Regions from separate parts of the Homo sapiens genome. Here region 1 is linked to region 2. The links come from fine-mapping of genetic effects on gene expression. Tissue or cell type: whole blood. Region 2 holds a variant in brackets; the other region holds the start of a gene. All regions are shown on one strand. Distances are between the middles of the regions.

Region 1 (8,104 bases), 150 kb after region 2:
TCCAAAAAGGAATCTTAGTGCAGAATCAGAAAGCTCACTCTTTGGGCTGCTTACCTTCCCAAACACATTCTCCTCTGGCCTATGTGAAACTGACGTTGCACTGTACAATTCTACAGCTCTTTCCTGACTGCCCACTGAGTGAGGGTCTGTGCTACATGCCAGGAGGATCCAAATGTGAACACAGCTAGGTTCCAGCTCTGGGACGCGGGAAAAGGAGGCACAGGGAGCAGGACATGTGCTGCAAGGAGACTACTGCTCCCGTGTTTCGTTCACTCACTCATCCAACAACAGCGCTAAGGCTCTGCTGTGTGCCAGGCACTTTTCTAGCTACTGGGGATCCAGAGGTGAACAAAGTCTTTTACAATTGAGTGGTAAGAGACTGACAATAAACAAACAAGTAAATAAATAACACACTGAATGGTGAGTACTAAGGAGAAACACAAAGCAAGGTTAACAAGAGAAACACAAAGCAAGGTTAACAAAGCCAATTTATGTAGGGCTTTCAGGGAGTGGGCAATAAGTGAGGGGCCAGCCATGTGAGCATCTGGGGGTGGCTCATGCCAAGGGGGTGGGAACAGCAGGTGCAAAGGCCCTGAGGCAAGAGTGGCCTGACAAATCTGAGGACCAAGGAATAAGAGGGAAAGAGCCCACATTCAGTTGGGATCTCCAGGATGGACATGCGCCAAGATGACAGGTGGGGATGGGGTGGGGACAACCCAGGGCAGATCTGGGCAGTAAGCCTGTCTGCCTGGAGCCAGGGCAGCCTGGAGGGGCCATTCTTGGGAGCAAGTGGGGGAACTTGAGAAAATCCAGCCGAGTAACGTGGATGTGGAGGGAGCACTGGAAAGCCACTGAAGGCCTGGGCAATGGTGACACACCTGGCCTGGGCCAACTTGCAGAGTCAGGAGTACCCCACAGCCCCCAACCTGGGAAACCTCACAGCCAGCACAGAAATCACAATGCACACAGCAGTGGCACCCCACCAGTACGTAGGGTTCCACAGAGTGAGCCTGGCTGCATGATCTTGAGGTCACCTACCTCCCAGGGCTCCCTTGTGTGTCTGGACAGGGAGAGAGGGGAAGATTGGCTTCAGGGGAGGCGAGAAAAGACGGTGCCCACGACAGCTGACTCAGCCTGTGCCAGCAGGCTGCTCTGAGACACGAGCTGGACCCAACCCAGGCGGTGGGCGGCAGGGGGTTGGGGAGGAACTCTGGGAAACGAAGGAGCCAGAGAAGCCTCCCTGTGGGCACTCGGGCCAACCACCACCCAAGGGAACAAAGAGCACCCCCAGCCCCCGCTGGGCACACAGGCTGCCTCCTGGTGAGCAACCCTCTCAAACTTCACCCCCAGCCCCCACCGGGCACACAGGCTGCCTCCTGGTGAGCAACCATCTCAAACTTGACCTACATCGGGGAGGCCTGCCTGGTGGTCAGTGGCTACCTTACATCCTACCTGTGCCTCCACGTTCCCAGTCCTCACAGCCACCTGGCAAGGGTGAGGAACTGAGACTGCATGGGGAGGGCACGCAGCCTGTGAGTGATACAGCCAGGACCGCCCGCCACCCAGGCCCAGAGCTCTCTCCACTCTCCCCATTCTCTAAGGACCAGGCTGCAAGGCAGGGCATGTGATCTCTGCCGAAGACATTCGAGCCACCCAGTGATGTGTGCTGGGTCTCGATCCCCACCGACCGCCAGTCCTCTCCTCCCCTGGACAGTAAAGGTTTCTCCACGACTTCGGACCATGGTGTCACCTGAGGCCCACACCTGTTGAGTCACCGGGGCAGGTATGCGTGGCAGAGGACAGCCAGGAGCGCCGGAGAGGAGCTGAGGCCTCGAGGGGGTCTCTGAAGCCAGGCTCAACCCCCACTCTCCCCACTCCAACAGCCCTCACCACAGCCACCGCCGCCCAATCCAAACAAAGCCCAGCCTGATGCCAACCTCACCATCAACTGTTTTTCCTCTGACTTCCTCAGTTTTGTCTAGGAAAAATCAAGGTGTCTTATCACCCCTCTCAGCTTCCAGGGGTGTGATCAGTGTCTTTTACAATTATCTCTTATTTTTATCCAGTATTTCTTAGCTCAGTTGGCAAACTAGGTATTTATGCACCTCCATTTCACAATCCATCCCCACCAATTATGCCTGTAAAACTAACATTTTGTTGAAAAAAAGAGGTTAGAACTACTTAAAAAGGTTTTGTAAACAAGTTAACTAGCAGGCCACAACTTGAGTCTAGGGTGTCAGAGAAAACATGCAAGGTGGAAGAGAATGAGGAGCTGACGGTCACCAGTTTCACCTCCTTCCAGCGCCCACCCAACTCTCCTGCTCACACACACTCACACCCCGTGGGACTCAGCCTGCAGCTCCTCCCATCCCAGGAGCCCAGGAGACCGGCAGTAGGGAGGGGCACAGACCACACTTCCTAATAAATAAGAGGGAAGACTCGGTGCCCCATCGCTAATGCCATCACCCAGTCCCAGCCCAGCCATGGAGCCCACTCCAAGGGCCCCCCTGACAGTGCTGCTAGAGCCCACCGAGGGAAGGCTGCCGGCACACAGCCACAAGCTCCAGCTTTACCCACTCACGCCCTGGACATTGCCTGGAGCCCCAGCGTTCCAGGTCCGTGTCACCCTGGCCCTCCTGCCTGGCAGATCCTAAGCTCAGGAGACCCTCTCCAGCCCAGGCTGCAGGGGGAAGCAGCCCCCACGGTCACCCAGGAATCAGCACAGAGGGCAGGGCATCCTGGACGCCCTGGACTGGGAAACCCAGATCCTGTCCCCTGCGTAGTGGCGACACACAGGAGAAACCCCTGCCTCACCTCATTGGAGGGACCCTGACCCAGAGGCCTGAGAAAAAGCCACCTGCAGGCTCCTGGCACCTGCCAACCTGCACCTTAGGAAAACTCGTCCCACTTCAACCTGCAAAGCTCTCGGGTCATTATTTCTAAAATCACTGTCCTTTCTCAAAGAGGAAGGAAAACAGAAAAATAAAACAAAAACAAAAACAGAAAGAGGCACAGGAGGTTGAAGAGGCCAGAGGCAGTTTAGCCCAAAAACAGTGCCAGACGCAAGATGCCGAGTTCGGGGTGCCTCACCCTCCACATGCCCATTTAGGAGCTGACTGCACTCAACCACAGATTTATGTCTGGTGCCTGCCAGGTCGTATCTGAATAGATCTGAAAAATTAAGCCTTCCTTCTGCCAGTAAATACGAAGTTAAGACTAGCAGGCCCCTCTAAGGCTCTGCTCTCCACGGCGGTCCTCGGCAGGCGTCGGAGAAAGGAAGTTCGCCCCCTCCCCGCCTGGGCACACCGAGGCCCGCTGCCCGGCCCATGGCGCCCTGCTTGGGGACCGGGGGCCTCGATGTTCTCCTTCACCATCTGCAGCCAGATCTCCCGCCAGCAGCCTTGCCAGGCAGTGCCTGCCATGGGGAAGGGGCCAGGCCGAGGGGCAGGTCCGCGCCGTGCCCCCAACCGGGCACCTGCAGCCCAGGAGCAACGGGGTGTGGGGTTTTGAATTGATAAGTTTTCCCCTCTGGGCCTTATTATAAAGGGAAAGGGAAGGGGGCGAAGATCTGGGCTTGGGTTCTCTGGGGGCAGCGAACCCAGAGGCGACCCCAAACTCAGTAGTTGCCGCCCGGCACGGGGACTTGATGCCGGTGCCAAGCAGCCCGGCCAGCCCGGCAGGAGTCGAGCGGACAGCCCCGCCACACAGCGCCTCTTGTCCGCGCCGGGTGGCCCCTTGCCGCGGTGCCCCCCGCGCGGGATGCGAGAGCCGCCGCCTGGTCCCCGCCCCGCCCGCCCACCCGTCGTGGGAGGGGGAAGCGGCCGGTCAGAGAGGAGTGGGGCCGCCGGGCTGTACCCCCATATCCCAGCGGCGGCCGCCCCGCAGCCACGCTGAGTCGGGAGGGCAGCGCTCTGGAGCGCTCGGGCCGCAACCTCCGCGCCGCCCCCCACGCGTCCGGGTCCTCGCGGCGCCCCGGGCGGCCCCAGGCTGCCGCCGCCGGCAAGTCAGGCAGCCCAGGTTCCCCAGCTTACCTGGCCAGGGCGCTGGGCTGCCCGGGTACGCCGCCGTCCCCGCCCCGCTGCCGCCGGCTCAGTCCGCGAGGCCGAGCTCTTTGTGAGCCCGCGCCGAGCCGCACACCGCGACTGCTAATGAGCCCGGGAAGCTGAATAGCTTCCCGAATAGCGGCGGGCGCGCCCCGGACGCAGCGTACGGCACGCAGGGCCGCCTCTGCCGGGCGCACGCGGCGCGGCTGCGGGGCGCATCCCGCACCGGCCTGCGGCTGCCGGGCCTGCGCCCCCGCCCCGGCCGCTTCCGCCTCACCCGCGCCGGGCACACTGGGGCCGGAAAACGATTCCCGGCTAGATCGCGCGCCGTGAAGAGAGGGAAGACAAAGATGCGTCCGTGCCGGGCGTGCGCGAGGTCCTGCGCCCCCTGGCCCCGGCGCTGGGACAGTCTGCAGGGCAGGAGGGTGCACTCGGGACCCCGGGTCCCCCCGGGCCGGTCTCCGGGATCGGGGCTGGGACCCAGGCGCTGGAAGGCGCGGCGCCCCGAACGCCCCGGGCCCTGGGGAGCACACAGATTCCCGGGCGTGCCCCGGCCGTGCTGGCTGGGGAGCTGCAGGGGTCTGGTCCCGCAGGTAGAGCCAGTGAACGCGAGGCTCCGCAGGTAGAGCCGGTGAACGCGAGGCTCCGCACCTTGCCCCGGCCGCCGCGCCCTGCTTGCTCGGCCCCGCGCAGCTGTAATGGGGGACCCTAGAGCGAAGAACCCTCGAGCGAAGAACTCTCGGGGATCGCGGCCTCCGAAGGCCCCATCCGGCAGAGGAGGCCCCCTGCTGCCTCCCCACCGCAGCTCCCCTAGGCGCATGCTGGACTCCCAAGTCTTCCCTGGCGGTCCCCGGTAACCATCCCAGCACCCCGTTTCTGATACTCTGTGCTGCTTTAGCCCCCAGCCCCAGGGCCTCACTCCAGGGCTTTCTCTCCTTGCTGTCCTAAATGGAGAGAACCCTGACCTCCGCGGGGCCCTGGGGAGCGTACACTCCTAGACACTCACATGCATCCCCAGGGGAGCCAGTCTTCCGCCCCTACAGCGCGAGAAATGCCCTGGAGGCCCTCGAAGGTCGTGCTGGAGACTCCGGTGTCACCTTTGGCCCTCTGGCCCTTTCACTGAGTCCCAGGCAGATGTGATGAGCCATGGGAGATGCACAGGATGCCTTGTCTGGGCAGAGCGGGGGCTCAGGGGCCTCCCTCCCCCCAAATCGTGGTGATTTGCCCTCGTTTTCTTTTCTCCTGTGGCTGGATTAGGCGAAGCTGTGGCATGGGAAGTTCTGCCCAGGTCAGAAGGCACAGAAGGGCAGGGGGACTTGGGAGTGAGGACAGCGCATCTTCCTGCTGCCCTGAGGGCCCGAGCTGAGACCCTAAGGAGAAGGGGCTGGGGGAAGCCGAATCCTGAGATGGACTAGGGTTAGATACACTGTGGACTTGGCCTCTCCACACCCTGCCCCCACCAAACATTCACAGGTTTCCAGGGCCAGAGCCGCCAGTGGGGGCTGCTCCTGGTAGGGGAGCTTTGTAGCCACAGGGCCAAACAAAGGGGCAAAGGCCAGGGCAGGCCAACGAGGTTCCTGACCTATGCCCCTCCGTACTCAGATGAGCACACCTTCACTGTCTACTTTCCACCTGCATAGACATTCTGCTTACCTGGCTAACACAAAGTTCATCCAGCCTCCTGTGGCCCAGCCTTTCACCAATGCCAATAGTGGGAAGCAACAATTAAGAAGAAGTGATTCTGAGAAGATAAATGCAGTCATCTTCTTGCCTTACTGTTATGTGGTCACATCCCATAGGAAACCAGACACCTGTGCCTGAAGCTGATCCACACAACACCCCCCACCTCCTCAAACCCCCACCCCCATCTGTGTGAACGTGTGTGGGCCGGTAAGTTGCATGCTGTTCCTTCAACAGCCTCCCTTGAGATCTTCCCATGAGCAGGCTCTGGGCCAGTCACTGGAAATTAAACCCCATCGCAGCACCCGGGAGTGATAGTGGCTGAAGTCCTCAGTCCACAAGATGAAAGGTATAGGCCTAGGGCCAAGAACAGTGGCTCCCACCTATAATCCCAATACTTTGGGAAGCTGAAGCAGGAGGCTCGCTTGAGCCCAGGAGTTCAAGACTGCAGTGAGTTGTGATCGTGCCACTGCACTCCAGCCTTGGTGACAGAACAAGACCCTATCATTTTAAAAAATGAAATAAATTAAATAAATTTAAAAATAAAGGTACAGGCCTGCCCCCAGCCTCACTCAGGACTCCTAAATCTGGTGAGCTTGAGCCAACTGCCAGTATTCAGAGAATTTTTGAAGAATCATTAGGACAAACAGTTAGTGCATGTGAGGCTTAAAACCTAGATGACAGGTTGATAGGTGCAGCAGACCACCATGGCACACATATACCCATGTAACAAACCTACACGTTCTGTACTTGTATCTGGGAACTTAAAATTTTAAATTTAAAAAAAAAAAGTATCTTGGAATGGGAAAGGCCTTTCTAAGTATGCAACAAAATCAAAAAGTGGTAACAAAAAAACAGCTAAGTTTGACTTCAAAGAAACTCTGGCATGGCAATCACTACCATAAGCAAAGTCTACAACAAAGGGGAAAAAATTATTTGCAATTCATATCACAAGCAGCTAATTTCCCTAACACATAGATAGCATCTAGAAATTGATAAGAAAAAAAAAATCAAAAGAAGGCATCACGGATCATCACCAGGCCCCCACCTTGGCTCACACCTGTAATCCCAGCTACTCAGGAGGCTGAGACAGGAGGATCACTTAAGCCCAGGAGTTCCAGGCTGCAGTGAACTATGATCATCCCAATGCACTAAGCCTGGGCAGCAGTATGAGACTGTCTCTTAACAGAAAAGACAAAGAAACAGGTAAAGGGTAAGAAGCAGACAATTCACAGGGAAGGAAATACAAATGACTTTTAAACATCTGAAAAGCTGTCCTCCCTTATTCATAATAAGAAATGCAAATTAAGCCAGGCATGGTGGCTCACACCTGTAATCCCAACACTTTGGGAGGCCGAGGCAGGTGGATCACTTGAGGTCAGGAGTTTGAGACAAGCCTGGCCAACACGGTGAAACCCCGTCTCTACTAGAAATACAAAAATTAGTTGGGCATGGTGGTGAGCACCGGTAATCCCAGCTACTTGGGAGGCTGAGGCAGGAGAATCGCTTGAACCTGGGAGGCAAAGGTTGCAGTGAGCTGAGATCGCACCACTGCACTTGAGCCTGGGCAACAGAGTGAGACTCCATCTCAAAAAAAGAAAAAGAAATGCAAATTAAAACTATGCTGAGATGTCATTGTGTTCACTGATCAGAGACCCAGGAGTTCAGTAATACAATATATTCCAGAAAGCAAGAGGAAACTGGCAGATACCCACACTGCCCATGGGAGTGTAAATCAGTACAACTTCTGTGTAGGAAAATCAGATGATGTCTATCAAAATTACAAATGCACAAGCTCTTTGACCTAAGAATTCACTTCTAGGAATTTTTTGACTTGTATATCACACGTGCAAAACAGGCATGAGTAGAATCATTCATGGTGCTATGTTTCTGTAGTAAGTGACTGCAGACAATCTTGATACCCATGAAAAGGGCACTGTTCAATGCATGAGGGCACTTCCCAACACTGAAATAGAATGCAGCCATAAAAGAAGGAAGAAACGCATGATAAATTAACATGGGAAGTTCTCCAAGATAATTGTTAAGTGAAAGAACAAAGGGCAGAAGATGTGTGTAGTATGCCACCATGTGAGTAAAAAAAGCAAAAAGGAAAAAAGGGTGAGCCTATAGATGCTCATATACAATAATAAAGCCTTTCTGGAAGGATCACAGTAAACTGAAAAATGTTGTCACCCTTGGGAAAGAAAGTAGTGTCTGGGGCGGGGGTGACAGGAAAACTTTTCAGTGATTTTCCTTTTCCTTTACTTTTTCTTTTTTTTTTTTTTTTTTGAGACAGAGTCTCGCTCTGTCACCCAGGCTGGAGTGCAGTAGCTCTGTCTTGGCTCACTGCAAGCTCCGCCTCCTGGGTTCACGCCATTCTC
Region 2 (8,104 bases):
AAAGTCACCGAATAAGTATTTCACTTCAAGATCACAGGCAACCGCAAGCTCTGAAAGGACACTAATAAATTAATCTTCCAAAAACAATACTGATATCCAACACTGTCAAGCAAGGCTCTCTAACCTAGCTTAGGGTCACAAAGGGATGTGTTCTCTTTGGAAAACGGCAGTGAAATGGACAAAAATATTGAGCACACACTAAACCTTCAATAACAGGATCCTAGATAAATCAGTGTTAGCACTTCCACAAGACAATTTTGTGGCATCTGAAATATTTACAAAAGGCTTAGCATGTAATATGTATTGTTATGATTTATTCACAACAAATAAACACAGAATCAACTGTGAAGAAATGCATTAAGACGTTAGCAAGGGCTGCCTTCGAGTGATGGGACAATGGTACCTATTTCCTTCCTCTAGTCATTCCTGGCTATAGTACTTCTACAGACAAATAACATAAAAAAGACAAGCATAAAAAAGCCCAGGAAGCCTTGGGCAGCCATACCTGTCAGGTGACATTTCTGCGGTGGGAAGGGTGTTAAGTCTCAGCAGCCCTTGGAAGAGGCTTGGGGTTAATGTTGGGCCTAACTTCTTCCTTCTGGGCATTCAATATGCTGAGACATCTGCCCCACTGCATCCTCATCTCGAAATACGCAAAGGGCGATGATCTGCCCTTTAAACATCATTAAAATTGCTGTCAGACCTTCATCATCAATACTAGTCTCCAGGAAATGGCATTTTCAATATCTCACAATGTAGTCCACGCCTGAAAGCAGCATTAATGCCGTAACAGGAACAGAGTAACTGTGTGCACTTCTGGCCTGGCCGGTATTTGCTGTTCTTCCTGGGTTACGTCTAACAGTAAGAAGTCAACTCTCTCCCACAAGAACTTCTGGAAATAGCGGTGCCTTGGCAAAGTCTACCTCTGCATGTCATGTTTGCTCCTGGATGCCTTTAGGGGAAAAGCGAGGGTCCAGATAAGAGGGCAACTGAACACAGAACGTTACCAGCACTGACCTTTTTCTTAACATGCTGGAGAAAGGGGCGCAGCTTCTGCAGCTGCCAGGACCCCGTGCAAAGAAGTACACTGCTAAATACACCCTCTACCAGATCCATCCTCAGAGACAAAGAAATCTGTCACCCCCAGAGAAGCGGCCACAAGACTCGAGGGGGAAAAGTCTGCTTCTGCTTGTTGCCCTGTGATTTTCACATTTTTCTAGTCATTTCCAAGTGCATACAGTACTGTGTAGATTTAAAATAAGCCACATCCGTGTTATGGCTGAATTATGTCCCCTCAAAATTCATATGTTTAAGTTCTCATCCCCTGTACCTCAGAATATACTTTGTTTAGAAATAGGATCACTGCAGCTGGGTGTGGTGGCTCACTCCTGTAATCCCAGCACTTTGGGAGGCCGAGGCGGGCGGATCACAAGGTCAGGAGACTGAGACCATCCTGGCTAACACAGTGAAACCCTGTCTCTACTAAAAATACACGTGGTGGCATGCACTTGTAGTCCCAGCTACTCAGGAGGCTGAGGCAGGAGACTCTCTTAAACTCGGGAGGCAGAGGTTGCAGTGAGCTGAGATCGGGCCACTGCACTCCAGCCTGGCAACACAGTGAGGAAAGAAAGAAAAGAAGAGACAGCGAGAGAGAGAGAGGAAGGGGATTACTGCAGATATAATTAGTTGACATACAGTAATTTGCGTAGGCCCTAACCCAATAGGACTGGTGTCCTCTAAAGAGGGGAATTGTGGAGACAGTCACACAAACAGGATGAAGGCAGGGCTCTAAACTAGGGAACATCAAAGATCGCCAGCAAACCACCACAAGCAAACGGAGACGCATGGGACAGACTTTCCCTCACAGCCCTCATGAGGCACCAGTCCTGAGGACACCTCAATCTGGGACTTCCAGCCTCCAGAACTGAGACAGTAAGCTTCTGTTGTTTATGCCACCCAGTCTGTGGACTTCTTACAGCAGCCCTAGAGAACTAAGAAAGTCCATAAGGATCATGTGCCCTTTATTCAAAGTTCAGAGTTCCCTTGTTTTTCATCTTCTGGGAAATTCTCCCGCATGTAATCAGGAATATTTTTTCACCAGGGATCTAACCATTGTTTCCACTATTGATCCCTTATTTTTCTATATAAATTTTAGAATCCCATTATCAATATCTAGTTTTTTAAATCCTGCTGGAAATTTGATTGGGATTGCAATGAATCTATAGGTCGATTTGGGGAGAATTCACAACTATACTGAATCTTCCAAAATATAAATATATCTTTCCATGAGTTGGGTCTTTGATTTCTCTCATCAGTATTCTTTAGTCTCCAGCATACGGATCTTGTATATTTTCTTATTTATATGTAGTTCTTTCTTTTTTGGGGGGATGCTATTGTAAATGATACCTTTTTTTAATAATTGCTTTTTTTTTTTTTTTTCTGAGACAGGGTCTTGCTCTGTCACCCAGGCTGGAGTAAAGTGGCACAAATATGGCTCACTGCAGCCTCAACCTCTGGGGATCAAGTGATCCTCCTGCCTCAGCCTTCTGAGTAGATGGCACTACAGGTGTGTGCCACCAGGCTCAGCAAAATTTTATTTATTTACTTATTTATTTAGTAGAGAAGAGGTCTTACCATATTGCCCATGCCGATCTTAAACTCCTGGCTCAATGATCCTCCCACCTTGGCCTCCCAAAGTGCTGAGACTACAGGCATGAGCCATCACACCTGGCCTACTCATTTCTTAAACTCATTTTTCTTTTATTCAGGATAATTTCTATTGATCTACTTAGAGCTAACTTAGATTCTTTCTTCTGTCATATACATTTGCTTTTGAACTCATCCAGTAATATTTTTACTTCATTCTAAAATTCCTATTTTTTTCTTTTTTTTTTCATATTGCCCTGCTGCGAATTTCTATGTTTCTGTTAATTTCAGAACTGTCCATCTTTTACCTCATGGAACATGGTTATAACAGTCACTTTAAAGTCTTTGATAATTTCAACATCTATGTCATCTCAGGGTTGACATTTGTTAATTGCCTTTTCCCTTGAGAACTGGGTCATTTAAAAAATATTTTTAATTGATTGACTGAAGAATTAGTCAGATTTTTTTGCTTCTTTGTATCCCAAATAATTGTAGATTGCATCCCAGATCGCTTTAATATGTACATTTTAACCCTGATTAAAAATGTTGAATGAGAGAGAATGTTGAGAATGTAGAGAATGTTGATTTTCATGTGTCTGCTTCATCAGACGATAAATCCACTCAGGTTGAGAACACAAGCTCTGGTTCCCCTTCGTTAGGGGATGGAGTTAACGTCAGTGCGGTTTCAAAACCCTTTGCTGTGCTCTGTGAGTTGGCTTCAAGCACGAGCTATTCAGGGATTAAGTCTGGGACCCGGGCCACGGTTTCTATTGCAGCTTAAATCCAAAGCCTTTGCTATGGTTCTCTGGGTATATCCCATACATGGAGTTGGTTCAGAAACATAAATAAACCCTCTTTTCCAGATTTCCCCTCTCCAAGATTTCTTCCATATTCCGCTACTACCAGATGCACCTTTTCCTGGTTCCTCTGCCCATAAAGTTGGGGCTCTCCCAGAGTTTTAGCCTAACACATCACACTCTTTCACAGTTTCTTGCAACTGCAGCCCCTGCTGAGGGCAAAGCAGAATGAGAAAGAGAAAAAAATGGGGATTCTTCCCACCACCTTTATGCAACAACCGGTTCCTCCAACCAGAGAGTTGGATTTTCTCTCAGGGTAGTAGGTGCTACTGCTCTGGGTCTGGCAGGGCCAGGAGAGAGGAAAAGACAAAACAAAACAGTGATCCCTCCTAATCTTCAGCTTGCAGCGTTCCTCTTTTCAACCCTCTGGCCACAAAGATGGGTTTCTCACAGAGTTTTGCTGCCTCTGCCCACTGTGCTATTTC[C/T]CAAATCAGTCAGCACTCAGATCAAAGGAGGGAAAAAAACCCAACCACAGAAACTCTATTCTAATGTGCTGCGCATTCAAGCTCCAACCCCCTTCCCGATGGGGTTGCTTTTCATTCTGTTCAGAGTTTTGAGTTCTAATCCGTGAGTGGAATGGACGATAGTGGGCTTACTCCATCCTGGACAGCACTGATGTCATCCATGGATCTCTTTACAGATTTGGGGAGGTACATTAAGTTAAAACCTGTTTATTTTTACTTCATTCGATTAATCAGACACTGCCCATCAGCGTTCAGCTAGGCTTGACATCATCAGCATTATCATCGGCAGGAAAGGTCACGCCACACGAAAACTGGCAGGCTGTGGTCCTCGGGCCTAAACCCCGGTTGGATGCTAGAATCAACCTGAGGAGGTTTAAAAAATATCAATTCCTGGATCCTGCCCCAGCTCCATGAGGTCAGAATTTCTGGGTGAGGAGAATTTGGACACTCTGGGTGGCTGACATGCAGCCAAGGCTGAGAACCACTATAATGAATATGACAAAAATGTGAAGGGTCCATGGTCCCATCATATCTTAGGATTCACAGTTTCTGATGGGGAGCTGGATGCCAGGAGGATAAGGAGGAACTGAGGAAGGAATGAGAGAGTTACGCTGTTAAGGGCTGGCCTGACAGCCTCTCCTCTACCACTCCCTGCTGCAGATATCCCAGGTCTTTGTGGTAATAAGATACGACCTTCTTTAATAACACATAAAACTTCAAAGGCCCTGTCTGACCCCCTCACAGGAATCTCCCTGGTGGGCCTTAGGGAAGCAATGCAACTCCTCAGCAGCAACCCTGATACACACACACACACACACACACACACACACACACACACACACACACACACACACACACCCTGACATACAGCTGAAATAAGGCTGCATGCTCAAAGGACACTTTCAAGGCAGCATATCTCCCCGCTTCATCTTCTTCCTTGATCAACAATAGTAAATCATCTCAAGGTCCTTCTAAAAAATGCATGCGCCAGGCGTAGTGGCTCACACCTGTAATCCCAGCACTTTGGGAGGCCAAGGCGGGCAGATCATGAGGTCAGGAGTTTGAGACCAGCCTGGCCAACATAGTGAAATCCTGTCTCTACTAAACATACAAAAATCAGCCAGGTGTGGTGGCGCACACCTGTAATCCCAGCTACTCGGGAGGCTGAGGCAAGAGAATCATTTGAACCCAGGAGGTGGAGGTTGCAGCGAGCCAAGATGGCCTCACTGCACTCCAGCTTGGGCAACAGAGTGAGACTTCGTCTCAGAAAAAAAAAAAAAAAAAAAAAAAATGCCTGCATATAGGACAGAGCCAAATAGGAAGTGGGTGTGTGTCCCTCCAGGGCCCCTACTCCAGACAGAGTCTGGGCTTCTGTCCCCACCGTTCACCTAATGCTTCAGTACTATCTTGAGGGCTCTAATCGCAGGACCAGGAAGCTCAACTGTCAGAGTTGCAAAGTGCAGCGTTGCTGATTTGGTTCAGCACTGTGGAGACAGGACAGGAAACCAACCCATACCACGGAAAAATGCACAATTATTTTCAAAAGCTAACCATTCAAGGATGACCTACGGTTTCAATCCCCCAATCCTCTGAGCTTCTCCATAGCTGAGGTTCTGTGAATTCCCAAGTAGCCCTCGGAAGATAGGTCACTTGGAGCCAGAAAAGGGGATTTCCCAGGTGCTGTGGAGGGACGTGCCTGGAGAGGAGCTCTGTGGTGAGCCAGAGTCCCCCAACACCAAAACGAAGAGGAGACCCTGGAGTTCAGACAGTGTGGGGAAGGCAGAAGTTGTTGTCAAAGCACAGAGCTGGCAAGCACAGCACCAGCTGCCTTGGCTAGAGCTTACAGAGTCCTGGGGGGCAAAACCAGAGGTGCCAGCCAGAGAGTGGACTGGGCCCAGGGTGCAGGACACCAGGATCCATGGGGAAGGCAGTCCCTCTGCTATGGTTCAGAAGTCCCTGCCAATACTCATGTGGAAATTTGATTGCCATTATAACAGTATTAAGAGACAGTATGCTGAAGAGGTGATTAGGCCATGAGGACTCTGCCGTCAGGAATGGATTAATGCCATTACCCAGGGAGAGGGCTCCTCATAAGAGGTTAAGTTTAGCCCCTATCTTGTCTCTCTGTCTCTTTGCCATGTGATGCCTTCCACCATGTTATGAGGCAGCACAAAGGCCCTCACCAGATGCTGGCACCATGCTCTTGGACTTCCCAACCTCCAGAACTTTGAGCCAATAAACTTCTTTTCTTTATAAATTACCCAGTCTGTGGTACTACGTTATAAGAGGACAAAATGGACAAACACACCCTCTAACAAGGAGAGTCAAGGGTCCCAGTCACTCTGGCCTGATTTCTTCCAGCCCCACGTAACTCTGGCTGTCTCTCTCTGCTTGCCTCAGGTCCTCACCCACAAAAGACATGTAAAGACCCTCCTCTCCTGAAAGGCCTGGAAGCTGCCCCTCTAATCCCAACAAACCCTCAGAGGCACTGGCCATGGTGATGGGCAACCTGTAATCTCACACGATGATTCACATCATCCTTCTGGTAACTCACCCCAGGCTGTTTGCCTGGTCCCTAGAACCATCTTTAACTTTCTGTACACGGTGGCTACACACCCACCCAGTCCATAAGCCAATGGAGGCAGGGGCTGCATCTCATATTTAAGTGTGCTTTGGAGCTACCAAGACGGGTTCAATGATAGCTGCTAAAAGGGTAAACATGAAATTCAAATGCTTAAATTAAACTCCACTGGATAAATTACAGGTTACTCAATCACTTTGATAAATGATTATCTTCTGAATAAAAATTCTCCCAAAAGATGTCTTTAAGTAGCAAGTTTCTCCTAGCTTATTTTAAACAATTTAACTTTTATTTTAAATAATTTTATTTTAAATAATTTAACTTTATTTATGCAAAACTTTCTCTTTTTTTTTTTGGAGACAGGGTCTCTCTCTGTTATCCAGGCTGGAGTGGACTGGTGTGATCTCAGCTCACTGCAACCTCCACCTCCCAGGTTCAAGCAATCCTCCTACCTTAGCCTCCAAAATAGCTGAGATGACAGGTACACACCACCTTGCCTGGCTAATTTTTGTATTTTTTATAGAAACAGGGTCTCACCATGTTGCCCGGGCTGGTCTCAAAGTCTTGGACTCAAGCAATCTGCCTGCCTCAGCCTCCCAAAATGTTGGGATTTCAGGCATGAACCACCATGCCTGGTCTACTTACTGCACAACTCCTAAACAAATGTTACCACTGTAAGAAGCAGGGAACTCTGGGGTGTTCAGCAGGAGATGATGTAAAAGAGGTGTGGGAGTCACCTGCTGGGCCTCTGGCCACCCCTCCTTTGAAGGCCACCTGAGGTCTCTGCACCCCAAACCCTCATACACAGTTCCCCAGTCCAGTGGGGAGGCCCCATATCGCTTGCTGGGGTGGAGGCAGCTTCACCCACCACCCGACCAGGTTTCTCCAGAGCTGCTCCCACCACCCCTTGGCTCAGCAGCACTGCCTCCCATCCTAGCTGTGCACCCTGTGGCTACTAGTGAGGCTCGCTTTGAAGTGAGCATCTCTGCTGAAGCACCCCTTCCTCAATGCAGGTGATGCTCATCCTCCCTGAAGGAGACCTGGGGACATTTGTCTACTAAGCAACATTTTCTTCCCCAAGAAATACCTGGTAAGGGGAGAGTCTGTAGATATGTTAAAAAAAATAGTTTTTTAAGACAAAAAATATATATATATGTATTCAGGCCATCTGTCAGGCACTGAGGCCTGGGCAAGGAGGTGTGGCTGGTGGGTGGCGGGAAAGCATAGGGGGGTGAGGGCTCTGCCTACAAGGACACAAGGGAGGGGCAAGGCAGCCTCTGGCAATGAACCCTGGCACCTCTCCAGCCTCCCGGGCCCAGCCCTGAGCCAAAGGGCACAGCCAGGGCCAGGTAAGGGGGTCACCAGCGGTGGAGTCCCTGGGCCTTGGCTTGCAACCAGGAAGGTTGCCAAAGCTTCCCCAGGTAGGGGGGCGCTCCGGGGTGACAGCTGGCACCCTGAGGGGTCCATATTCAGCTTCAGATCTTTGTCTGCTCCTGTCCTCTCTGGCCTGCTTTGCATCCCAACAGTTCCTTCCCATGCAGCAGAGCCACCTGCGG

The links. PIP is the estimated chance that this variant, and not a neighbour inherited with it, causes the effect.
Region 1: it holds the start of APBA2, and the variant in region 2 is fine-mapped to the expression of APBA2 in whole blood (TOPMed, PIP above 0.99). The same link has a PIP of 0.9 or more in blood mononuclear cells.

The regions. Positions count from the first base shown.
Region 1 is chr15:28,882,206-28,890,309 of GRCh38, reverse strand. APBA2 (amyloid beta precursor protein binding family A member 2) reads right to left here and starts at 4,336. Exons shown (of 15, transcript NM_001353788.2): 1 at 4,032-4,336.
Region 2 is chr15:29,035,820-29,043,923 of GRCh38, reverse strand. All of the region lies in intron 3 of APBA2 (amyloid beta precursor protein binding family A member 2), which reads right to left. Among named protein-coding and RNA genes, the nearest start is that of APBA2, 150 kb to the right of the region's middle. The variant C/T (reference allele first, on the strand shown) is at 3,929.